Linked DNA regions of Homo sapiens. The protein of the gene in region 2 purifies or fractionates together with the protein of the main gene of each other region. This does not show direct contact. Each region holds a gene or a part of one and is shown on either strand. Other genes may lie near its edges. The genes, in order: CHERP, MAGEB2, FCF1, LYAR, ZC3H8, MYEF2 and YTHDC2.

The links.
Region 1: the proteins of MAGEB2 (region 2) and CHERP purify together in Homo sapiens (co-immunoprecipitation; 2 studies listed by BioGRID and IntAct, with this or other methods). This does not show direct contact.
Region 3: the proteins of MAGEB2 (region 2) and FCF1 purify together in Homo sapiens (co-immunoprecipitation; 2 studies listed by BioGRID and IntAct, with this or other methods). This does not show direct contact.
Region 4: the proteins of MAGEB2 (region 2) and LYAR purify together in Homo sapiens (co-immunoprecipitation; 2 studies listed by BioGRID and IntAct, with this or other methods). This does not show direct contact.
Region 5: the proteins of MAGEB2 (region 2) and ZC3H8 purify together in Homo sapiens (co-immunoprecipitation; 2 studies listed by BioGRID and IntAct, with this or other methods). This does not show direct contact.
Region 6: the proteins of MAGEB2 (region 2) and MYEF2 purify together in Homo sapiens (co-immunoprecipitation; 2 studies listed by BioGRID and IntAct, with this or other methods). This does not show direct contact.
Region 7: the proteins of MAGEB2 (region 2) and YTHDC2 purify together in Homo sapiens (co-immunoprecipitation; 2 studies listed by BioGRID and IntAct, with this or other methods). This does not show direct contact.

The regions. Positions count from the first base shown.
Region 1 is NC_000019.10:16,525,438-16,528,937, reverse strand, and holds part of CHERP (calcium homeostasis endoplasmic reticulum protein), read left to right. Parts: intron 1-682; coding exon 683-858; intron 859-3,260; coding exon 3,261-3,500. UniProt on the Homo sapiens protein: Involved in calcium homeostasis, growth and proliferation.
Region 2 is NC_000023.11:30,214,230-30,218,362, forward strand, and holds the start of MAGEB2 (melanoma-associated antigen B2), read left to right. Parts: upstream 1-1,333; 5' UTR 1,334-1,426; intron 1,427-4,133. UniProt on the Homo sapiens protein: May enhance ubiquitin ligase activity of RING-type zinc finger-containing E3 ubiquitin-protein ligases. Proposed to act through recruitment and/or stabilization of the Ubl-conjugating enzyme (E2) at the E3:substrate complex.
Region 3 is NC_000014.9:74,719,644-74,723,143, forward strand, and holds part of FCF1 (rRNA-processing protein FCF1 homolog), read left to right. Parts: intron 1-3,500. UniProt on the Homo sapiens protein: Part of the small subunit (SSU) processome, first precursor of the small eukaryotic ribosomal subunit.
Region 4 is NC_000004.12:4,270,178-4,273,154, forward strand, and holds part of LYAR (cell growth-regulating nucleolar protein), read right to left. Parts: intron 1-2,977. UniProt on the Homo sapiens protein: Plays a role in the maintenance of the appropriate processing of 47S/45S pre-rRNA to 32S/30S pre-rRNAs and their subsequent processing to produce 18S and 28S rRNAs. Also acts at the level of transcription regulation.
Region 5 is NC_000002.12:112,252,243-112,256,412, reverse strand, and holds the start of ZC3H8 (zinc finger CCCH domain-containing protein 8), read left to right. Parts: upstream 1-1,370; 5' UTR 1,371-1,431; coding exon 1,432-1,505; intron 1,506-4,170.
Region 6 is NC_000015.10:48,150,796-48,154,295, reverse strand, and holds part of MYEF2 (myelin expression factor 2), read left to right. Parts: intron 1-402; coding exon 403-504; exon of another isoform or gene 505-1,989; intron 1,990-2,011; coding exon 2,012-2,062; intron 2,063-2,353; coding exon 2,354-2,422; intron 2,423-2,724; coding exon 2,725-2,823; intron 2,824-3,124; coding exon 3,125-3,196; intron 3,197-3,500. UniProt on the Homo sapiens protein: Transcriptional repressor of the myelin basic protein gene (MBP). Binds to the proximal MB1 element 5'-TTGTCC-3' of the MBP promoter. Its binding to MB1 and function are inhibited by PURA.
Region 7 is NC_000005.10:113,555,194-113,558,693, forward strand, and holds part of YTHDC2 (3'-5' RNA helicase YTHDC2), read left to right. Parts: intron 1-858; coding exon 859-941; intron 942-3,500. UniProt on the Homo sapiens protein: 3'-5' RNA helicase that plays a key role in the male and female germline by promoting transition from mitotic to meiotic divisions in stem cells.

The DNA.
Region 1 (3,500 bases), on a different chromosome or scaffold from region 2:
TCTGTCGCCCAGGCTGGAGTGCAGTGGCGTGATCTCAGCTCACTGCAAGCTCCGCTTCCTGGGTTCACGCCATTCTCCTACCTCAGCCTCCTGAGTAGCTAGGACTACAGGCGCACGCAACCATGCCCAGCTACTTTTTTGTATTTTTAGTAGAGACGGGGTTTCACCGTGTTAGCCAGGATGGTCTCGATCTCCTGACCTTGGGATCCACCCACCTCAGCCTCCCAAAGTGCTGGGATTACAGGCGTGAGCCACCGCACCCGGCCTAGCAAAGGATTTTAAAATTACATTCTGATCAAAGAAGATTTGTTGTAGGAATATGAGGATTGTATAGAATAGAAAATAACAGATGTGGGGAAATGACCTTTTAATTAGATACAGTAAAGATGTCTAATCAAATTCAGTGTGGATAGAAATTCTTCAGCAAACCAAGAAGGCAGAAGTGAGGCCTGTTTCTTGTAAAGCTTTGAAAAGGACAGATGTGTGTCATGTTCAAGGTCGAAACCTCCCCTCGCCCTGTCCCCTTCCTGGAAGCCAGTGATAGTCATGGTTTTAGTGGGTCCTGAAGCGATCATCCACTGGGCACTAAAAGCGGTAGCCTGGTTTGCTCTGGGGTAGTGTGGAGAGGAGACAGCGCCTCCTGCTGCCAGGCCTGCTCTAACTGCCTGTCACTTGGATTTAGATGACAGCAAGCCTCCCATCCAGATGCCTGGCTCTTCAGAGTACGAAGCTCCAGGAGGGGTCCAGGATCCTGCAGCTGCCGGCCCCCGGGGCCCCGGGCCACACGACCAGATCCCACCAAACAAGCCCCCTTGGTTTGACCAGCCTCACCCCGTGGCTCCTTGGGGCCAGCAGCAGGTATTGATTGGAACCTGGGGTGGGAGCAGATGGGGCACACTTGGCCTGATGGGGTAGCCTCCCCTATGCCAGTTGGTGGGCGTTGAGTGGCTTACTGGGGAACAATGAGGGATATTCTGTGGCAGAGCTTATGCTGGGTTAGTGACAGCCCTGTCTTCCTGTGGCTCCGGGACAGGTCAAGTGACAGGTCTTCACGTCCCTTCCCCGAGCTTTGATGGTTTGGGCTTCTCTGTAGTATAGATCACCATTGTCCTGCGAGTGCAGGGGAGTTTAACGCTGCAAGGCACGGCAGGGTGTTCTGTTTCCTGTCCTCCTTAAACAGGTTAAGCTAGTTGAGTGTCAGTGTTTTGTCATCCTGGAAAGAACAAGGTGCTTTTGTAAGGAAAGGGGGAATGTCAGAAATGTCAGCCGTGTTGCCCCTGGGAGGCCTCAGATGCAGCTTTGCTATGGGTCACATACCCCTGGGCCAAGGCAGGGGCCACCTTATGTGGCACAGCATGGCTGTGAAATGCCCTGCAGCGTGCTGGGTCCACTTTCAGCACTGAGGCACAGCCCCGGGTCTTCCAGGGCGTGACTTTCCCCCTTGCCCGTGGGGCCTGGTTGGCTTCGCAGCGTGGCCTTTCCAGGTGACTCCCTGTCTGCAGGGACAGGTGTAAGGATGGCAAGGAGACTGGCTCTGGACTGAGACTTGGTGGTTGTGGCTTTGAGCCTCCCATCCCCAGCTTCAGGACACGAAATTGAACCTCACAAAAGATTGGACACCCCCATAAAGACAGCTCCCACCTCCAAGTGCTGGCCAGGAGCCAGATGGTGGTGGCTGTTTTGCAGGTACCCTCTGCTGGGGGGGGCAGTTCTTGTCCCTGTTTTGTAGGTGTGGAAACAGGCCCTTAGTGTCTCCAGGCTCAGTCTTTTTGCAGACCAGAGGGTTGGGCTCAGGACAATGGGCACGCCCCTCACTGAGGGTGCCCGCTAGGCCAGCAGTGCATCCTGCAGTCCACACTGAGAAACAGCAGCCTGGCCTGCTTGACTTGGCCATGTGGGGTCTTAACACGTTTAAAAGTAATTTCTCAAGGCAGGAAGATTGCTTGAGGCCAGGAGTTTGGGACCAGCCTGGGCAACAAGGCAAGACTCCATCTCTACAAAGAATAAAAATAAGCTGGCATGGTGGTGCACACCTGTCGTCCCAGCTACACAGTGGTCTGAGGCAGGAAGATTGGTTCAGCCAGGACTTCAGGCTTCATTGAGCTATGGTCATGCCACTGCATTCCAGCCTGGGTGACAGAGTGAGACCTTGTCTCTAAAAAAGAAAAGCAAGGCTGGGCGTGGTGGCTAACGCCTGTAATCCCACACTTTGGGAGGCTGAGGTGGGCAGATCATTTGAGGTCAGGAGTTTGAGACCAGCCTGGCCAACGTGGTGAAACCTCGCCTCTACTAAAGATAAAAAAATAGCCGGGCATGGTGCCAGGCGCCTATAATCCCAGCTACTCGAGAAGCTGAGGCAGGAGAATCACCTGAACCCGGGAGGTGGAAGTTGCAGTGAGCCAAGATCGCGCCACTGCACTCCAGCCTGGGCAACAGAGCGAGACTGTCTCAAATTAAGAAAAAGAAAAACAAGTAGTTCCTGATATTTAATATCTGGCTCTCTGGCTTCTCTTGGAAGCCTGGTGAATGTGGCAGCCTGGGCCAGCCTCCCCTTAGTAGGGGTCAGCGCAGTTACCCAGCTGTGACCCTAGACACCGGCCTTCTCATTGGCCTCTGTGCTCCTCCCCTCCCCTGCCCAAGCTGGAGTTTGCCCTCCTGGCTTTAAGTCTCCAGAGCAGAAGCTGATGAGGGAAGAGCCTCCCGTCTTCAGTCTACAGGAAGATGCTGGCTTGGTTTGAAAGTCCCCAGAAGCAGACCCCAGGACAAGGATGTGTGTGCCGCAGTGTATCTGCCCAGCAGACGGCTTTTGGGGAGAGGGGGAGTGAGGCAGGGCAGGGGGTGTCAGAGTGAGCCCCGCCCCATGGGTGCCTGGGGTGCCCTGAGAAGCGATACCGTCTGTGCCTCTGCACCTGCCCCTGAGGGGCGAGGGAGCTGGCGTTTGTCTGGCAGTGGTAGCGGGGAGCACCTTGTGGCGCGGGCGGCCTGTGTGCGGGTGCAGCGCGCCCCAGCGGCAGAAACAGCCCCGGGACTGAGATGCGGGTGCAGCGGTTGGGTGTCTGGTCATTTTGCAGCAGCATGTGGTGCGGGCTGAGAGCAGGTGCCCAGCATCCTCGCAGGCGTCAGCGTAGGAGGCGCCTCAACGTGGCCAGGGCAGCGCCTCCATGGTCTGAGCCAGCGCTGTGATGCTGCCGAGCGCTGTGATGCTGCCGAGCACTAGGGCCTAGACCACGCAGGGCTCAAGCCTGTCCCTTCCCTTGCAGCCGCCAGAGCAGCCACCCTACCCGCACCACCAGGGCGGCCCACCCCACTGCCCCCCCTGGAACAACAGCCATGAGGGCATGTGGGGCGAGCAGCGCGGTGACCCCGGCTGGAACGGCCAGCGCGACGCGCCCTGGAACAACCAGCCCGACGCCGCCTGGAACAGCCAGTTCGAGGGCCCCTGGAACAGCCAGCACGAGCAGCCGCCCTGGGGCGGGGGCCAGCGCGAGCCACCCTTCCGC
Region 2 (4,133 bases):
TGCCAAGTGAGGAGATGAGAAGAGACTCTCAAATTCATCTCCCCAAGGAGTTCTGGGCTGGGATTTGCAAGGAGATCATGGAGGGCGAGGGGCTGGAGAACTGAGGTTGTTGATTCGTTGGGGTAAAGGGGATGAAATCATCAGAATGTGGAAACTGCGTTTTTTTTTTTTTAGTCAGCTCCTGTGGGGTCTTTTGGACCAGCTGATGTCAGTAGGGTCCTTTAGAGCAGCTGGCATCAGTGGGGTCCTTCAGACCAGCTGAGTCATTAGAATCATCAGTATGCAGGACCTTAAGGAATATCTCAAAGAAAAAAAGTTTCATTATGTTAAAATTGTTATCTATAGAGCAATTAAGGGCAACTATAATCTAGTAACAGGATCTACATGATTCTGGGATAATAGGCACCAAACTACTATGAGGAAGCAGGTCAGAGAGCAGCTGACTTCATGATTAATGCTGAATGTTCTGCAAGCTTGGCGTATCTTCATTTATCTCCCTTCCCTCTTCCCTGATTAATTTTATACAGTTCATAGGGGCAGTTTCAAAACCACCCACCCCAGAACAGAGGAGCCCACAAATTCCACCAATGCTGTCACCCTTGGGGAGCCCAGAAGAGAATTATGAGGTGGAGAAATCCCATCAATATGCCTCGTGTGTTTCACAGAGGTGAAGACCTTGGACTAGTGGAAATGGCCCTAGGTCAAAGAGACAAAACCCACGCCCTAACAGGAATCAAGGTGAGGATCCTAAGTGTTACGAGGGGGCTCTCCCCCTTGCAACACCAGCAGAGGGGGCCAAACAGAGCCCCTCGCCATTGTTAGCACCGAGAGGCCCCAAAATAAGTATCTCTGAATCCCCTTCATTCCACCTGTATAGTCTCGGGGAAGGAAGGGCCTTTGTCTGAAGAGGGTGACCCCAGTTGTGCAGAGAGAGAGTCTTGGCTTTCACGGGAATCAAGGTGAGGACTCTGAGGGCGGATGAGAAGACCTCTCCCCAAAAAAGGCACATTCACAGAGCCCTGCCGCTGCTGTCAGGCCTGTGAGGCCCAGGCAGGGGTGGCCTGTTTGGCACGCTTAGATTTCCACAGTGGGGGCTGAGGGAGGTGGGGGTATTGTTTGGAGGCTGGCGGATTTGGGTCAGCACGCATATTCGTCCCAGGCTGCTAGATACTGAGGTGAGGACCCCTAGTGGAGACGAAGGGACCAGCAACGCTAGAACAGTGACGTCCGGTAGCGTCCAGCCGTCAGCCCTCAGACGCCACGGGCTGCCGGATGTGAGTCATCCTGACTTCCGCTTTGAAAAAAAAGACCCGAGCGGATGTGGCTCATCCTGACTTCCGCTTTGGAGGCGAGGACCCGAGCGAGTGTAGGGGGTGCGGCGTCTGGTCAGCCAGGGGTGAATTCTCAGGACTGGTCGGCAGTCAAGGTGAGGACCCTGAGTGTAAACTGAAGAGACCACCCCCACCTGTAACAAAGAGGGCCCCACTAAGTCCCGCTTCTGCATTTGGTCCTGAGAGGCTCCGGTAAAGCCGTCCGGCAATGTTCCACCTGGAAAGTTCCAGGGCAGGGGAAGGGTGGGGGGAGGGGCAGTCGCGGGGGAAGGAGGTTTGGACGCAGGGAATAGGCCTCATTCTGCACGTAGGGTGGGTGTAGGCCCTAACTGAAATCAATTTGAGGGCCCTAAATGTGGACTGAAGAGAACATCTCCTACCCTTAACAAAGGTGGCCTCACTAAGTCTCGTCCCTGAAGACGGCTCTGGGAGGCCCCAGCAAAGCTGTGCCTGGAAAGTCTCAGGGAGGGGAGGGCCTTGAACCTAGGAAGCAGCCCTGCTTCTGCTCATATGGCATCAACCTAAAACCTAACTGGGGTTAAGGTGAGGACTCTGAGTATTAATGAGCGGACCTCTACCCAAAAGAGGAGTCATGCTGGGCAGTTCCCAGGCCGAGGTGACACTGGGTTTTAGATGGTCCCAGGCTGACATGACAAATGCAGAGCAACCTGACTTCCTCTCCCGGGACTAAAGAAGTTGAGGGCTACATCCAAGACCCACATCTGCTGCCAGCAATAGGAAGGTCAGGGCAAAGCTAGCAAGCTGAGATGCTCTCTAGTTTCCTCTGGAGGTGGTCTCAGGGAGGTGAGGGTCTTGGTGTAATGGGGTAGGTCTAATGCGACAGAGAGGCCCAGTCTCTAACAGGAAGCAAGGATGTGACACTGAGTGATGAGGAGGGGACTCCAACCAGAAAGAAGTGCCATATAGAGCCCACTCTTGTTGTCAGACCAGGGAGACCTGAGCATGGCATGTTGAGTTGTACTCACTCTCCCCAAGACATCTCAGAGAAGTGAACGACCCCATTAAAGAGGGCAGCCTGGCCGGGCGCGGTGGCTCACGCCTGTAATCCCAGCACTTTGGGAGGCCGAGACAGGCGGATCACGAGGTCAGGAGATCGAGACCATCCTGGCTAACACGGTGAAACCCTGTCTCTACTAAAAATACCAAAAAAAAAATTAGCGGGGAGCGGTGGCGGGCGCCTGTAATCCCAGCTACTCGGGAGGCTGAGGCAGGAGAATGGTGTGAACCTGGGAGGCGGAGTTTGCAGTGAGCCGAGATAGAGCCACTGCAGTCCGGCCTAGGCGAAAGGGCGAGACTCCGTCTCTTAAAAAAAAAAAAAAAAAAGGCAGCTTGAGGTCAGCAGAGGGAGGGTTTCCAGGTTGTGCCAGATGTTATGATAAGAACTCTGACGACTGCAGGGGGCTCCCACCCCATATTAGTGGGAGCCACACAATCCTCAGTACTGTCAGCTCTGAGAGACCCCAGGCAGAAATGTGAAACAGAGGTGCCCATCAGTTCCCACTCAAGGGTAACAGGGAAATGAGAGTTTTAATCTGAGGGTGGTGATCACTTGTCAACAGAAGTAATGTACTAATTGGTCCATTCTGGCATTACTATAAATACCCAAGACTGGGTAATTTACAAAGAAAAGAGGTTTAATTGGCTCACAGTTCTGCAGGCTGTACAGGAAGCATGATGCTGGCATTTGCTCAGCTTCTGGGAGCAGGGCTCAGGAAATTTACAATCATGGCAGAAGGGGAAGGGGAAGCAGACATGTTACATGGCCAGAGCAGGATCAAGAGGCCAGGGGAGGCGCTACACACTTTTAAATGACCAGATCTCATGAGAAGTCATCGTTAAGGGGAATGGTGCTAAACCATTCATGAAAAACCTGCCCTCATGATCCAGTCATCTCCCACCAGGCTCCACCTCCAACATTGAGGATTACAGTTAGACATGAGATTTGGTGAGGATACAGATCCAAACCATATCAGGGAAGAATCTTAGACCCTCTCATGAGTCAAATTTAGAGGCTGAGTTGGGACTGTATGTGGGACCATCTATCACAGGGCAGTTATCTGCCTGCCACAGCTTTTACTTTTGGGAAGACCACATTTGGTCAGATAAGGCCACCCTCACTTCCTCCTATGGGTTCTCAGGGATGTTCACTCTTACCATGACGACATAGGCCTCAGTTCAATAAAAAGGAGAGCTCCTCTACCAGGAGTCAAATTGAGGAATCTGAGAATTCAAGGAACCACTGAACCCTTAACAGTGGAGACATCAAAGAATCCAGTCCAACCCTTTATTTTCAGCCCTAGAAAGCTCAGGAAAGGGTTATCAGGTTTAGTGTCCCCCTCTCTTTTTTATATAAGATCTAAGAGAGGTGAGATTCTTAGTCTGACGGTGTAGCCACCACTCAGCAGAAGGGGGCTGGTGCCAAGCCCTACATGAAGCCAAGGTGGGGACCTTGAATGAGAGCTGAAGACTCTAATGATTCCAAGACATCAAAGACCCCACTGAACTCTCAGCACTGGGTGTCACTTCTCAGGGTGGTGGTTGAGGCACCCCTTCAATTTCTTCTCATGAGTCCCAGGGTGCTTTGAGGTGTCAAATTCACAGTAGCGGAAGGGAGTGGCTCAGGCCCTGCCAAGACTTCATATGATAATCCTAAAAGTTAACTGATAAAACCCCAAACACCAGAAGACAGGAGGCCGCACTGCCAGTACCTCCTGTCACCATAGTAAGCCCAAGGAAGGGCTGACAGAATGCAGTCTGAAACTCACTGTAGGGGTTCTGTGG
Region 3 (3,500 bases), on a different chromosome or scaffold from region 2:
GGTCCCAGCTGCTTGGGAGGCTGAGGTGGGAGGATCACTTAAGCCTGGGAGGTCGAGGCTGCACTGAGCTATGTCCATGTCACTGCCCTCCAGCCTGGGTGACGGAACAAGAACCTGTCTCAAAAGGGGGAAAAAAAGGAAGTTGCTTATAATGCATTTCCTCAAAGGAGCAATTATAAAAATTCATAAATCTGTGTGAGATGGAGGGTTACTTTTATTTATTAATGAAAATGGCCTGTAATCCCAGCACTTTGGGAGGCCGAAGCACGCGGACTACCTGAGGTCTGGAGTTCAAGACCAGCATGGCCAACATGGCAAAACTCTGTCTCTACTAAAAATCCAAAAAAAATTAGCCGGGCGTGGTGGCAGGTCCCTATAATTCCAGCTACTCGGGAGGCTGATGCAGGAAAATCGCTTGAACCCCAGAGGCAGAAATTGCAGTGAGCCAAGATCGTGCCATTGCAAGAGCGAAACTCCGTCTCAAAAAAATAAAAAAAGAAAATGGATCCTGTATTATTTTTTGCTTTATAAAACAGATTTACTGAAATATAATTGACTCCCTTTACAACTATACAATTCATCCCTTTAAAGTGTACAGTTCAGTGACTTCTAGTGGATTCACAGAGTTGTGCATCATCCATCACCATAGTCAATTTTAGAACTTCCATTATCCCAGGAAGAAACCTGGAGACCCTTAGCCATCACCCTGCAACCCTCACCATTCTCTCTATTTCTAGGCAACCACTAATCTACTTTCTGTTTCTATAAATTTCCCTATTCTGGACATTTCATAAAAATAGAATCTTATAATATTTGGTCCTTTTTCATTTAACGTACTGTTTTCAAGGATCATTTATATTACAGTTTGTATCAGTACTTCATTTCTTTTTATTACTAAATAATATTCCACTGTATGGATAGATCACATTTTAATCATTTCTACTTGCTTTTTACATTGAACTATATATTTTGAACATTTTTCCATGGCATGTATATATAAATGGGCCTCATTCTTTTATTTTGAGTCAAGGTCTTGCTATGTCATCCAAGCTGGAATGCAGTGGTCTGAGCCAATAGCTTACAGCAGCCTCAACCTCCAGGTCTCAAGTGATCCTGCAGCCACAGCCTCCCAAGTAGCTGAGACTACTGGAAAGAGCCACCATGCCTGGCTATTTTATTTATTTATGTTTTGTAGAAACAAGGTATCAATCATGTTGCCCAAGTTTTTGGGGTTTGTTTTTTTTTTTTTTTTTGAGACAGGCTGTCACTCTGTCACCCAGGCTGGAGTGCAGTGGTGTAATCTCAGCTCACTACAGCCTCTGCCTCCCGGGTTCAAGCAATTCTCATGCCTCAGCCTCCCAGTAGCCGGGATTGCAGGTGTGTTCCACCACACCCACCTAATTTTTTTTTTTTTTTTTTGAGACAGAGCCTCACTCTGTTACCCGGGTTGGAGTGCAGTGGTGCAATATCGGCTCACTGCAACCTCTGCCTCCAGGCTTCAAGTGATTCTCCTGCCTCAGCCTCCTGAGTATCTGGGACTACAGGCATGTGCCACCACGCCCAGCTAATTTTTTTGTATTTTTAGTAGAGATGAGGTTTCACCATGTTGACCAGACTGGTCTTGAACTCCTGACCTCAGGTGACCTGCCTGCCTTGGCCTCCCAAAGTGCTGAGATTACGGGCATGAGCCACCACACCCAGCCCTAATTTTTATATTTTTAGTAGAGATGGGGTTTTGCCATGTTGGCCAGGAATTCTTTTTTAAAGTTATGTATGGCCGGGCACGGTGGCTCACGCCTATAATCCCATCATTTTGGGAGTTCGAGGCAGGTGGATTGCTTCAGGTCAGGAGTTCGAAACCAGCCTGACCAACATGGTGAAACCTTGTCTTTACTAAAACTACAAAAATTAGCTGGGCGTGGTGGAGGGCGCCTGTAATCCCAGCTACTTGGGAGGCTGAGGCAGGAGAATCGCTTGAACCTGGGAGGCAGAGATTACGCCACTGCACTCCAGCCTGGGCAACAAAGTGAGACTTCAAAAAAAAATAAAGAATGAATAAAGTTACATACTATAATTGCTTCTCAGCCTTTTGGCTAAGATCAGGTGTAAAGTTACATACTATTCTATTGTTTAAATACATAATTTTTTAAACCCAGTATCTTATTAGGTATTTTGGTTATTTCCAGGTTCTACCCAATTAACAAGTCTGTAGTAAATATCCTTATGAATATGTCTCCCTAAGAGTGTATTTCTTTAGGATACATTGTCTGGAAGCTGTATTATGTATCAAGGGATTTGTGTATTTTTAATAGGTATTGCAAATTTGCCCTCAAATAGTTGTACCAATGTATATACCTACAAACTTAGTATGAGAATACTTGTTTCCTCAATATTGGGTATTTTCTTTTTTTTTTTTTTTTTTGAGATGGAGTTTCACTCTTGTCACTCAGGCTAGAGTGCAATGGCACGATCTTGGCTCATTGCAACCTCCATCTGCTGGGTTGAACTGATCCTCCTGCCTCAGCCTCCCAAGTAACTGGGATTACAGGTGCCCAACACCATGCCCAGCTATTTTTTTTATTTTTAGTAGAGACGGGTTTCACCATGTTGGCCAGGCTGGTCTCGAACTCCTGACCTCAGGTGATCCGCCTGCCTCAGCCTCCCAAAGTGCTGGGATTATAGGCGTGAGCCACTACGCCCGGCCAATATTGGATATTTTCATCTGTTTAATCTTTGCCACTCTTCTAGGTGCCACTCTTCCCAGTCTTTGGCCCAATAGACTCCGTTCAAATGTTGGCTTTACCATTTGCTATCTATTTAGTTAACTTCTTTGTGTCTCAGGTTCCTCACCTATAAAATAGGGATGATGATTTTTTTTTAAACTATTATATGGCTTTCTGTTTGATAGTTGTCAAACAGAAGTTTTTAAAATTTTTATGTGATCAGATTTACATTATCTGGCTAATTTCATGGTTTCTTGTGGTTCACATTTAAATTTTATTTCATCTGAGCCAGGCACAGTGGCTCACACCTGTAATCCCAGCACTTTGGGAGCCCAAGACAGGAGGAATGATTGATCCCAGGAGTTCAAGACAGCCTGGGCAACATGGCAAAGCCCCATCTCTACAAAAAAAAAATGTTTTTTTTTAATTAGCTGGGCATAGTGGTGCGTACCTGTGGTCCTCGCTACTCGGGAGGCTGAGGTGGGAGAATCATTAGAACCCAGGAGGATAACTAGAACCCAGGAGTTTGAGGCTGCAGTGAGTTGAGATCGTGCCACTGCGCTCCAGCCTGGGCAACAGAGCAAGACTCTGTCTCAAAAAAATAATAAAAATAAATAATTTTTTTCCCATCAGGAACTTACATTAATATAAAAATAATGACAGAGTTCAGCTTAGTTTTTTTTCCCCAGATATGTTTATAACAGGGAATCTGCAGTTTGGGGTTGGGACAATCTTAGTTTCTTAGGGTTTTCTTCTACTCTAGTTCTTCTTGTATAT
Region 4 (2,977 bases), on a different chromosome or scaffold from region 2:
GGGCAACAGTGAGACCCTGTCTCGAAAAATAAAAATAAAATACAGTAACACATTAAATTGTACACCTGAACTACATAAAATGTTGATTTGTAAAAAAAAAAAAAAAAAAAGTTATCCATTAAGATAATTTAGAAAACAAAAAAATCTTTAGGCTCTAGGGCTAGGTAAAGAGTTGTTAGCACAATCCATAAGATAAATTGATAAATTGAACTTTATCAAAATAAAAACCATTTGCCCTAAAAAGACTCTGTTATGATGAAAAAACAAGCAAAAAGACTGAAAAAAAATTCACAAACTGTTATGTCCCACAAAGGAGTACTATTTAGAATAAATTTAAAAACTAAAATCTCAACAGTTAAAAAAAAAAAAAACCCACAAAAACAACAACCAAAAAAACCCCAAACAACTCAAATTAGAAAATAGGGGAAAAAAATTTAAAAAAAGAGAGCAGACATTTCAACAAAAACATATACAGATAGCAAATATGCACAGAAGAAGGTGCTCAACAACATTAGTCATTAGGGCCACACAAATTCAAACCACAATGAGCGGTTACCACACATCTATCAGAATGGCGAAAATACAACACAGTGGCAACGCCTAATATTGACCATGATGTGGAGAAACTAGATCCTTTACACACTGCTACTGGGAATATAAAATGTGTACAGAGACTCCTGAAACAGCTGACAGTTTTTTCCTTTTTAAATTTTTGTGGGTACACAGCAGGTGTATATGGGGCACGTGAGATATTTTGATACAGACATGCAATGTATGATACTTACATCAGAGTAAATGGGGTATCCATCACCTCAAGCATTTATCCTTTTGTGTTACAAACAATCCAATTATACTCTAGTTATTTTAAAATGTACAATTAAATTATTATTGACTACAGCCACCCTGTTGTGTTATGAAATACTAGATCTTATTCATTCTATTTTCTTGATACCCATTAACCATCCCCACCTCTCCCACAGCCTCCCACCACCCTTTCCAGTCTCTGGTAACCATCCTTTTACTCTCTATCTCCATGAGTTGGCAACTGTTTTGATTTTTAGATCCCACAAATAAGTGAAAACATGCTATGCTTGTCTTCCTGTGCTTGGCTTATTTCACTTAGCATAATGACTTCCAGTTCCATCCACGTTGCTGCAAACGACAGGATCTCATTCTTTTTATGGCTGAATAGTACTCCGCTGTGTACATGCACCACATTTTCTTTACCCATTCATCTGCTGCTGGACACATAGGTTGCTCCAATCTTGGTTATTGTAAATAGTGCTGCAACAAACACGGGAGTGCAGGTATCTCTTCAACACAGGGATTTCCTTTCTTCTGAATATATACCCAAACAGTGGGGCTGCTGGATTGGACGGGAGCTCTATTCTTAGGTTTCTGAGGAACCTCCAAGCGGTTCTCCATAGTGGTTGTACTAATTTACATTCCCACCAACAGTGCACCAGCGTTCCTTTTTCTCCACATCCTCGCCAGCATTAGTTATTGAGCTGGTGGTTTCTTAGAAAAGAAAGAATATGCAACTACTGTATGACACAGCATTGAACATTCGCTTCAGAAAAACTGACTTAGTTCACACAGAAACCTGCACATCAATGTTTACTGCAGCTTTATTCATTAATAACCAGAGACTAGAAACCACCCAGGTGTCCCTCCACAGGTGAATGATGAAAGGACTGTGATGCACGCACAGCACGGGATACTCCTCACCAATAAGATGAATATTGGTCAGTTCAGCAACCTGGGTGAATCTCCAGAGAAAAACGCTGAGCGAAGAGTCAGTCTCAAAAGGTTACATACTGTATGATTCCATTCATAGAACATTCGGAGATTCCAGAAATGAAGAACAGATTAGTGATTGCCAGAGGCTAAGGAGGGGGTGGGGGTGAGAGGGAAGTGGCTGTGGCTACAAGAGGGCAGCAGGAGGCAGCCTTGCGCAATGGCGATGGAAATGGAAGCGTATCCATGTCAACATCCCGGCTGAGATGCTGTACTACAGTTGTGTAAAGTGTTATCCTGGGTGGCAACAAGGTAAAGGGTACGCGGATACATAAGGACGCCTGAGTCTCCATTATTTCTTACAACTGCATGTGAGTCTACAAGGATCTCAAAACAAAAAATGTAACAACAACAACAAAAATAACCATTCCAGTTGTCCCCCTTGATCTGCAGGGGACAGTTCCCAGACCCCCAGTGGATGCCTGAAATCACAATGGTACTGAACCCCTATATATACTGTCTTTCCCTAAATATTCATTCATGCCTATGACAATGCTCCACTTATAAATGAGGCACAGTAAAAGATTATCAATAACTAATAATAAAATAGAACAATTTTACAATACACTATAATAAAAGTTATGTGAATGTGGTCTCTCTGTGTCTCTCTAAATATCTTATTGTCCTATCCTCACCCTTCTTGTGGTGAAGAAGGCATACAGCAGGACAGCAAGAGATCTCGCCATGCTGCTCAGAACAGCATGCAATGGAAAACTTATCAATTGTTTATTTCTGGAATTTTCCATCCCACAGATATGGGGACACTACTGTTTACTAAGTTGAGAAGGGGGTTTTAAGCTTAGAGATCTAACCCAATGCTGGCAGTCACTGAACTCTGCTAATAAAGCTGCAGGCCCATTTGAGTCTTTGGACCTGTTCTGAACTGCAGGATCCTGGGGGTTGGGGGAGGTGGCAGAGAGATGACGACTTGCCACCTCCCGACAGGTATGAGTGCTTCAGGCCTGAAGAAGCAGGAGAGAAGCTTTGTGTAAGAGACAGCATTTCAGAGGGCCCGTGAAGGCCAGGGACTGGATTCTGAGGTTGAGGATACAAGCAAGGAGACCCCAGAAACAGGCCCAGAGATGGGCAGGGGCACAGTTCAGGGGACTTCTAAGAGAACAGTGAAAGGCAGGGGCAAGAGAGTTGGGGAGGAGCGAAAGGGAACCGGGTCTCAGAAAGC
Region 5 (4,170 bases), on a different chromosome or scaffold from region 2:
CTGCTAAAGAGGGGGTAATTCTAGTTTTTATCTCCTTAATTCAATTTTTTCTCTGAATTTTTAGTAATGATTCATGTTCCATAGGTGATGGCCTACAATATAAACAACATGGGAAAGTAGAATTTCCCTGGGGAAGATGTCTGGCTTCAAATAGTTCCCTTCACTAATCGGTAAAGGGATCCTGATTCATGCCAAGAATCAAACACTCCCTTCACTTACAGAAGCAAGTCAGGTTCTCTATCACTGGCCCAACCTAGGGTTTGAGCCTTCCTTTCTACAGGTCCCTTAAATGGCATTACATTGAGCAAAACTGAGCAATTTCCTGTTCTGCAACAGCATGCTCTATTTTCCTGCCTTCATACAATTCTCTCTACTTGGAATGCCCACTTCCTCTTTTCCTATGGAAATATCTCAAGACCCAGCTCAAATACTCCCTTCTCAAGAAGCCTTCCCAACTGGATGCAATTTTTTCCCTCTTCTGAATTCTCTTAGTATTTGGTACTTTTTAACGGACTTTTCTGTCTTGAGGTTACTTGTGTATTCATTTTAATTCCCATTCAATTGTAGAGACCCTACAAGTTACATTACCTGACTACACATCTGTTTATTCATTTCAAAACTGTGAATGGTAATAGAACATCTTTTACAGGGCTGTTGTGAGGATTAAGTTAGCTAACATGTGAAACGCTATTTCTAAGGAATAGTAGTGGAGTGCTCAGATAAATGTTAGCTGTTACTACCATCCCTTAGAAATACTGTGATTTTGATGGAAGAGTTTTCACCAAGGTGAAAGCAGAATCCTAACAACTAATTTTAAAAATTCTGGGCTGGGGCCGGGCGCGGTGGCTCACGCCTGTAATCCCAGCACTTTGGAAGGCTGGGGCGGGCGGATCACGAGATCAAGAGATCGAGACCATCCTGGCCAACATGGTGAAATCCCGTCTCTACTAAAAATACAAAAATTAGCTGGGCGTGGTGGCAGACACCTGTAGTCCCAGCTACTCAGGAGGCTGAAGCAGGAGACTTGCTTGAACCCGGGAGGCGGAGGTTGCAGTGAGCCGAGATCACGCCACTGCAGTCCAGCCTGGACGACAGAGCTTGACTCTGTCTTTAAATAAACAAACAAACAAACAAATAAATAAATAAAATAAACAAAATTCTACTATCTGAGGTAAAGGACGAAAAAGCTTACAGAAGGGCAACCACGGCGGCGCCTGCGCAGAGCCGAGGCGAAGGAGGCAGGGAGAGACCCGGCCTGCCCAGAGTCGCGGAGGGCGGTGCAGCGCATGCGCGGGGCAGGTGAGGCTGCGCGGGGCGGAGCCTGTGGCCCTGGCGCGGCTCTGGGTCCGTCTCGTCGCGTCCGGGTTGTCACTCTCTCGGGTTGTTACTCTGTAGCTTCCCGGCTCGCGAAAGGGAGGACCTGTCTGGGTCATGGATTTTGAGAATCTTTTCTCAAAACCCCCCAACCCGGCCCTCGGCAAAACGGCCACGGACTCTGACGAAAGGTGATCCCATATCTTTTCATCTTTTGAATGCAGGGGCTCAGCGGGACTCCGCCTCTTAGTTTCTTCTGGATTGGAGGCAGTCCGGGGCCACGTCCGGGCCGCGTCGCGAGGGCCCGTGGGGAGCACGTGGGCCGGCCGGGCGCCACCGTCTGACCTATAGAGGTCGTGCGGGGTCCGGGTGGGAGCAGAAGCTGAACGCGGGGCTCAGGCTTAGGCCGTCAGGGCCGGGGCTGTCGAGAGCCTGGGCGGGGGAGCGGGGTGGAGGCGAGAAGGCTCCGGGATGCGCCCCTTTCTCTGCACAGCAGCGGGTGAGGAGCCCGCCTCTGTGGTCCCGTAGCGTCTGTCTTTACCGTTGTTGCCTGTTTCCACGAGACCGTAAACTCCCAGAGGACACTGATGTGACCTTTTTCACTGACACCTCCTAGGTTCTTTTCTGTAGAAAGGATGAAACCACAAGTTTATTGAAAGGTAAAGAATAGGCAATACTCTGCCATTAGTCCACTGATTTGCATGGAAAGACCCTAAAGACCACAATAAAGCAACAGACGTCATTTGGACTTAATATTTCCATTAGGTTGGAAAAGCAAGTGAGACTCTTGGTCAGATGGCCCTAATTTGTAGATTATATTTTTGGAGCAGTGTCTAGTGATTTGAAATGCTAAAAACCACCATCTTTGTTCTTAAACCTACGTCTTTTATTTCCCTCAACTGAGATATATTTCCAGTTGTGATTGATTTTACCATTCGATATTGGTCAGCTGTTCACTCTATCTCAAATTTTACCTTAACTGATCATCCAGAGCTTTACCTTGTGCTTTACATGAAATAAATCACTTAATCCTCAAAACAAACTTAAAGAGAAGATGATGCCGTCCTCGTTTTACAGATGGGAAAACTGAGGCACGGAGAGGCTAAATAACCTGCCGAGATTGCACAGTGTAAGTGGAAGAGCTATGTCCAGGATCCATGATTTTATCACCAAGCTTCTCATGCAAAATGACTAAAATTTTAAAATAAGCCCTATAAATATTGGAAAGAGACAGATACACTAATTACTTGCAGATGATATAATTTACTAAGAAAAATAACTGGTACTAATTGATATGTTATAAAATACATAAGAATTCATCACACAAAAAAAAGATAATAGCAACATTTAAAAATCCGAACAGCAGCTATCAGTTTCAAAGTGTGTTGGACACAAGCTCCATTCCCCAAAACTTGACTGCAATACATAAAAGACACTTGGAATTTTGCCAAAATGATGGGTGAAGGATGGTATGGAAGTATGGTGAGCTGTCCATATTATTTGCCCATTTTTCTCCTTTTTGGTCTTTTTCACATTCTAGGATCTCTTATCTGCGAATACTTTACTCCCAATTGTCATTTGTCTTTGCCTATGGCATTATTTTTCAATGTAAAAAGGAATGGGGATGTTGTGGTTTGGTTTTATGCAGTCAGATGAATCAGTCTTTTCTCATATGGTTTCTGGTTTTTTTTCCGAGTAATTTGTGATGGGAATACTTCTCATTCATTCAAAAAATCGTATTGAGCACCTGCTACGGCCTTGGGGATATAGTAGTAAATGAAGAAGAGATGAAAATTTCTGTACTAATGAATTTACATTATTAGGGGAAGGGGGAGACATACATAAATATATCATATTTTAGGTGGTACTAAATGCCCTGAGAAAATGAATGAAGGGTAAGGGGAAAATAAGCACTGGTGGGATGGTAGGGAGGGAGTAGTTTTGTGGGTTTTTTTTTTATTTTTTTGAGCAGAGTCTGGCTCTGTCGCCCAGGCTGGGGTGCAGTGGCGCGATCTCGGCTCACTGCAAGCTCTGCCTTCCGGGTTCACACCATTCTCCTGCCTCAGCCTCCCGAGTAGCTGGGACTACAGGCGCCTGCCACCACGCCCGACGTATTTTTAGTAGAGACGGGGTTTCACCATGTTAGACAGGATGGTCTCGATCTCCTGACCTTGTGATCTGCCCGCCTTGGCCTCCCAAAGTGCTGGGATTACAGGCGTGAGCCACCGCGCCCGGCTGGGAGGTGTAGATATTTTAAGAAGGTAGATAAGGAAAGCCTCACTGATAACATTGGTAAGTTTTAAAAATCTGTGTAGGGACCTGAAGGAGGTGAGGGGGTTTCATAGTCCAGAGGGGTGGAGAGGAGTCTGTATAAAGGTCCTCAGACGGAGTGAGCTTGGTGTGATTGGGTTAGGGGAGCAAAGTGGCCAGGACAGCTGGGGTGGAGTAAGAGGGACTTGGAAGTCTGCGAGGTACTGGGGTAGGGTTAGGGGAGCCCAATCATGGAGGAACTGGTAGGTGCCGAAATAAGGACTTTGGCTTTTACTCTGAATGAGACAAGAGACCATTGGAGGGTTTTTCAGCAGAGTGACATTTGAAATATTTTAGCAGGGTCATTCTAGTTGTGTTGAGAGTAGAATGTAGGGGTGCCAGAGCAGCTTGGATTGTTGTATTAGTGGCAAGAAGTGGTCAAACGTGGGTATGTTGAAGATAGAATAAACTGGATTTCCTCAGAGATTGGATGGGGATGTGAGAGAGGAATCAAGATTGACTTTAAGGTTTTGGTAGGGATCTTGAGAGGGATGGTGTTGCCGTTTTAGATAGCAAGAAGGATTAGGCTTCAGAGAGAAGAGCAAG
Region 6 (3,500 bases), on a different chromosome or scaffold from region 2:
TTGAACCATTTAAAAAGTAATTATCAAATTTTAAGTGGGTCTACAAATTTGGGCAAGATACTCATTTTCAGATATGTGTGCCATATATAAGGTGATATGATATTATTCAAAATCCTCTAGGTATTTTATTATTCCTCTCAGTGTACCTTTAAGTGGGGTATAAGGTGTACTTTGTATTATATCATGTTTTATTTCATAAAACACTTCTCATTAATAAATGGTTTTATAGTCGGGCTTCAGTGTGCTACTTTCTAGACAAAAACAAGAACCAGTGCTTTTATATGAAAATTTGCAGAAATTTTACAGATACTACTACAGGTATATAGCTTTTTAAAAAATTTTATTGCCAATTAGTTAATCATATATGGATCTTTGTAATGATTGTTCTCATTTTTGTTTTAGGTGGTCTTGGAGGCATTGGGATGGGACTTGGTCCGGGTGGACAGCCTATTAGTGCCAGCCAGTTGAACATAGGTGGAGTAATGGGAAATTTAGGTCCAGGTGGTGAGTATTCTAACTTCCTCTTTTCTTTTTAAATGATACATATGCTAGCTAATAAAGCCTCCATTGATGTGGTCTGTAATAATGTTTAAAGGACTCTAATTAATAGTTAGATATTTACGGTGTCACTTCATTCTGAAAAAGGAATGAAACCTTGAGCACAGCTAACATGAAAGAGATAGGCAGAAGTCAGGAGGGTTTCTTTGGGGCCAGCTATGTTGTAGCTAGCCTTTTAGCATTTTGGATTTTGAAATGTCTTGAAGGCAGAAGGAGAATATATCATCTATGAACAGTATTTATGGAGTAGCTGAAATGCTACCATATCATAGGCAGCTAAAATCTGTTTATCCATTTGGGAAGGTGGCTTTTCAGGTAGTTATTTGGCTGCTCACCTGGAAGAACTCACAGTTCATTTTTAGAGATTGGTTTTTAAACTTTGGTGTTAGGACCCTTTTATATTTTAAAATTTGTTGAGAACCCGAAAATGCTTTGTTTATGTAGTTATAATTACCAGTATTTACTGTATTATAAATGAAAAATTAGAAATTAAAAAAATTACATATTAAAAAATGATAAACTCATTACATGTTAACATACATAAAAGTTTTAAGAAAATAAACTATTTTTCAATGCAAAAAAGAAATTGGTGAGGAGAGTGGCATTGTTTTACCTTTCCACACATCTTTTTAATGTTTGGCTTAATATTGCTGTTATATCTGTTTCTGCACTTTAGTTTTTTGTGATATTGTACATCATATAGTGTTTGGAAAATTACACCTTAAACTCAAGAGAATGAGGGTAAAACATCAAATAATGTCTTAGTAGTATTTGGTGACTTAAATAGTTTTGACCTATTGAACCCTCAAGAGTCCCTGGACCATACTTTGTGAATTACTGTTTTAATTGATGGACTAATAAATGCTATCAGATTCCTATTTTGTCAAGATGCTGTAGTCACACTTTAAATTATGAGGCTCATTATCATAATCATTCTGATCCAAACAAGTTTTCTCCCTTACCCTTAGACTCTCACACCTACCTACCCTCTCCTAAATACATACTATTTATATTTTGAAAATTTTTACTGCTCTTTTAACTGCGATGTTTAGAGAGTCCTTACATTCTGGCCTGATCTCTAAATCTGCTGTAATGCTATTTCTGTGTCTATGCTGGAAAAAAAAAATCATTGATAGTAGTATTTCTGTGTTTATTGTGGAAAAAAAAGTGAATGATTACCTAGTTCAAGATATTCTCTAACTGAATGTTGTGGGTGTTACTAGTGAATTTTGCTTTCTTGTCTGATAAATGTTCAAAGAAACCCTTTTGAAGATTCATGATTAGACAGCTGCTATGGCATAGCACTTTAAACCATGCCTCCTGTACCCTACCGCTTCTCTAGTGTTTCATTGTGGTTATACCAGTGGTATCTATTTTGCTATAATGCATTATATCATCTTTTAGTCATAAAAATAAAATATACTTAAAGTACATACTGTGTATTTTATTTGAGGTATGGGAATGGATGGTCCAGGTTTTGGAGGAATGAATAGAATTGGAGGAGGTATGTATAAAGATTTGTTTTTTTGTATGTACCCATCACCATTTTTAATAAACTAGAAACTGTGTTGAGAATTCCATGAAAAAAAAGTCATGGTTTATTGTTGGCTCATGTTCTAAAGGCTGCTAGCAGAAATTGAGCCTGGTACATACTTAAAGGAAGGTGATGTGTTAAGAAGTAGCTGCACAAGGTAGGGTGGATGAAGAGCTTACTGGTGAGATTTAACATTTACAAAACGTACCTTTCAGCTACATGACTGACAGTTGGATCTCAAAATTAATCTTTATTCCATAGGAATAGGGTTTGGTGGTCTGGAAGCAATGAATAGCATGGGAGGATTTGGAGGAGTTGGCCGAATGGGAGGTAGGTAAATGTATGCAGTGGGAAGTGTGTGCATATTTAGTTTTCCCTATTATTAATATTTCCCCCCTATAACTTAGGAATGTGTGCTAAAAATGTCTTCAGAAGGCATATAGGCACTAGGGGATAAGGACAGGCCTGGGGAATGGGGATGATATGTGTGGCATGTGAGGTAAATTGGGTAAATGACAGACTATTTTATATTTGTGACTTACGCGTCTTTTCATAATTTAGATACATTCCTGAATGTTTTCAACATGTATTGATATATTTGAAAAGGTTAATTTGTTGCACAATTTTTTCAGAGCTGTACCGTGGTGCGATGACTAGTAGCATGGAGCGAGATTTTGGACGTGGTGATATTGGAATAAATCGAGGCTTTGGAGATTCCTTTGGTAGACTTGGTAGGGCTGGCTGCATACTTCTCCTTTTCTTTTTGTAGGCTATAATTTTTGAAATTTGGTTTCTCTTTTTTTGTGAAAAATCAGAAAATCATAATGTTTTATACAACTTATTACCTGAAGAAAACACTTTAAGGATTTTAATATGCTAGCTCTCTTTTTCAACATCTTACATATTTGAACTCTATTTTCAGAAGACTTTATGCTTTTCATTTATTGTAAATCAGAGCACATAGTACCTTGGGAATTTTAAAGTATGATTATTTAAAATTAATTAGTATATTATCTTTCCATCCTTGTTTAGGCAGTGCAATGATTGGAGGGTTTGCAGGAAGAATAGGATCTTCTAACATGGGTCCAGTAGGATCTGGAATAAGTAGGTTTAAATTTTACTAGAATTTATTCAGTAATATTTGAGTGCTTGCAAAGACTTTGCAAGAGTAGTTATCGTAGTATAGTAATACTTTGTTCTTATACGTTAATGTGTCTTGCTATAATTTGAGAAACCTTGATAATTGAGCAAAGCCTTTCTGTTTGATTATTGTTTGAAATTTCTAAATTAACTGTTTGAATTTTACTTTTTTGATATTTCTAAACTATGTGTTAACAGCCAATCCAGGAACCTTCTTTCCAACTAAGGAATCTGGGGATTTCTCTGATCATGTTTCAGGAGCAACTTT
Region 7 (3,500 bases), on a different chromosome or scaffold from region 2:
TAGGTGTTACTTATTTATTAAGTAACTGAAATTTAAAACATGGGTAGTGTCAAAAGTTATTTAACATACAAAATTGACAAATGTAATGTCATATTAAAAACCAAATAAGCTGTTTTCTAAAAATTTTATAAACTATTATGCAAACATTTTTATTTGCTCTATGCAGTTATTTTATGAAAGGGAAAGTATAAGTACCGAGTGACTGAAATACATGTTCTAGTTAGGCTTGTATTTCTTTAAAATATTTCTCTACAATAAATTTTCACTGTAGGTTATTTGAATAAGTATGTGGATAACAATGGTTCTTTTTTACTTTCTTCATTGTAACGTTCGGGAAAGGCTAACTTTGTTAGTAGCTCAGCAGGAAGTAAAGTGGAAGTGGTTAAAAATATTTCTCTTTGGGATAAGATTATTGATTGTTATTCTTACTCCACAAGGTTAGGTCCCTGAAAAGTATTTCAGAAAATGTCTTTCCTTGATCTTCTTATTCTGCACAGTGATGCAAATCTGATAGGAAAGTGACCTCAAGGGAATAGATCCGTTCTCTCCAATCTTGATGTCTTATGAGAACTGGCTGCCATTATCCAGCTGTGGCAGAGAGCAACAAATAGCTCAGCAGAGCACAGAATGGAGAAGTTTTACGCTCTTCTGAGTTTAGTTTTTAAATCCTTTTTTCTTAGTATGTTTGTAACCAGAAAATCAGGGTTTATTAAAAATCAGTACTGCTGTTTTAATTATTTAATCAAGAGAGGACTTTGAATTAAACTTTTGGCATGTTAAAATATGTTGATAACATTCTTGCTATTACCTTTTAAATACCTTTTATATTCTAACATAAAGATGGTTTAAATATTACAGAAATCCTTTGATGCTCTGAATTTTGTTACAATGTTAAAAATGGTATGGATTTCCAAAGCTAGTGCCATACAGCGGAAAGGCAGGTAATGTATATTTAATGTATATTCATTCAATTGCCTGTAAAATGGAAACGTTTTTATATGCATTACACATTTATCATATATTCCATGTTCAATAAAATAGTAGTTTTCATGTTAAAATTTTTATATTATTTTTGCAAAGCAAGCCATTTTGATACTTCCTTAAAAGTTGAATGTAGGTTATGTTAAAATTAAAAACTTTTGCCTAGTTAAATGTACATTCAGATGTAAGAAGCTTAAAAAACAAAACCAAAAATTCTAAACATATGCAATGTAGGACAAAGAGCTAATTTCCTTATTATATAAAGAAGCTCTTTGAAATCAACTAAAGGCCAATAATCCAGTTAAAATGGATAAAGGGCACAAATAGGCAATTTACCAAAATAAAAAATATGCATGTCCTACTAATACATTAACCTCACATATACTACCTAATATGTATCTAAATAAATGCAAATTAATGAGGTATTATTTTTTGAATCTCAGATGGGCATTGATGAAAATGTTTAACAGTATGTACAACATAGAGGAAAAACATGGGCCAATAGTCTTTCATATTTTACTGATGGGAGTATAGATTGGTGTGACTTCTTCAGAGTGCAATTTGAAACTATTTATCCAAATCTACTCTTTGACCATAGATTCCACTTGTCATAATTTATCCTGAGTATGCTTGCACACGTGTGCAAAGATGTATGTTTAAGACTGTTCTTTGAAGCATTGTTTATAATAATGTAAAGTCTGGGAACAGTGTGATGTCCATCAATACTGAAGTGATTAAATAAATTATAGCCACACAGTGGCTTTCTGGGTAGCTGTTAAAAGGAAAAATGTAGATCTGTGTGTTCTTATATGGAATGAGTTTTCAGGATGCATTGTTAATTGAAAGGATACAGAACATGCATCTAGTAGTCTTTTGTGGTAAGAAAAATATATGTGTGTTTGTGTATGTATTTTGACACAAATGCATCGAGAAGTCTGGGAGAAACATTAAAAAACAATGAATGATTGTTAACTCTGAGAAGGAGGATTTGTGGGGTTCTTGGAGTAAGGAGACAATTTTATTTTTTTTGTAATTTGGTTATTTTACTAAGTGTTTGGGTTACTTTTTAATTTTCAAAAGATAACATTAAAAAGTATCATTTTCAGTAAATATTTATCTTGCATTTTATTATAATTAGCAGGAAAACATGAAATGCTGACTTTCAAAGAATGCCTCATATACTGAAGACTCATGTGCATTATTTCTTTACTTTGTAACTTCATAGAATGCCCATGAGGGCTTTGTTGTTGTTATGTCAGTTGTTTTCTTATGACCAATAGTGGCTTGATACATTAAGCTGGATGTCCCTGCTATTAATAGTATATTATTGTGGGTAAGGCTGGGTGTAGTGGCTTATGCTTGTAATCCCAGCACTTTGGGAGCCTGAGGTGGAAGGATCACTTGAGTCTAAGAGTCTGAGACTAGCCTGGGCATCATAGTGAGACCTTGTCTCTACAAAAAATTAAAAAATCAGCTAGGTGTGGTGGCACAGGCCTGTGGGCCTAGCTACTTGGGAGGCTAAGGTGGGAGGATCATCTGATCCTGGGAGGTCGAGGCTGCAGCTGCCGTGAGCTGTGATCATACCACTCTACTCCAGCCGGAGCGACAGAGCCAGACACTGTCTCAAAAAAAATAAAATAACAAATAGTATATTATTGGAGATGAAGGCCAGAACTGCAAAAATTTTCATTGCCATTTTTCAACAAATGTTTATCAAAAGTCTTCCCTGTGCACATGTTACGGATAGTGATAAATAAACCATAGCCTGATAGGTAAAGCTGGAGGTAGGGCAAATGTTGCAGTCCATGTGGGAGTCCAGTAAATTAAGCAATTTTAATACAGTGTTATTTGTGCTACAACTGGATGTTTCCAGAGTTGTTAAGAATGAATCTGAGACAATTGTGAATAAAGGGGGAGGCATTTCTAAAAGGCAGAGGGAAAGTATAACCAGGTATACTTATTTGCCTAAAGGCAAGAGTGAATAGGGAGGATGTTTGGATAGAATTTAGTTTAGAGAATAGTGAAAAATGAGCTGAAAGTTGGGGACAAGTTTTTAAGGACCATTTTGAGTTTTCTCTCTTTTTTAAAAAAATAAACAGTGGGATGACATGAGTATAGTATTCTTTCAGCTCTCTGAAGAATGGATTGGCAGGAACAAAAATGATGGTAGGAGGACCCAGTAGGAGGCTTCTTCATTAATACTTTCCTATAATAAGGGAGAGATGAAAGTAGTCTGGATTGTTTTAGTGGTGGTGGAAATAAAAATAAATAGATAATTAATTCAAGAGATACTAAAGAAAGTAATGTTGGTGATTGATTGTGTATGTAGGGGGTGAGGGGTAAGGAAGAGAGTGGAGTTAAGGATGTCATCCAGGTTTCTGTCTTAAAAAATCGGACAGTAGTGCCATAGTCAGATAGGGAAAATTGGAAGAGTGTTTTCACTGGAGAGAATAATTAATTTTTGGTTATTTTGAGTTTGAGTTGCCTGTAGAAAATCGAAGTGGATTGGGAGGCTGAGG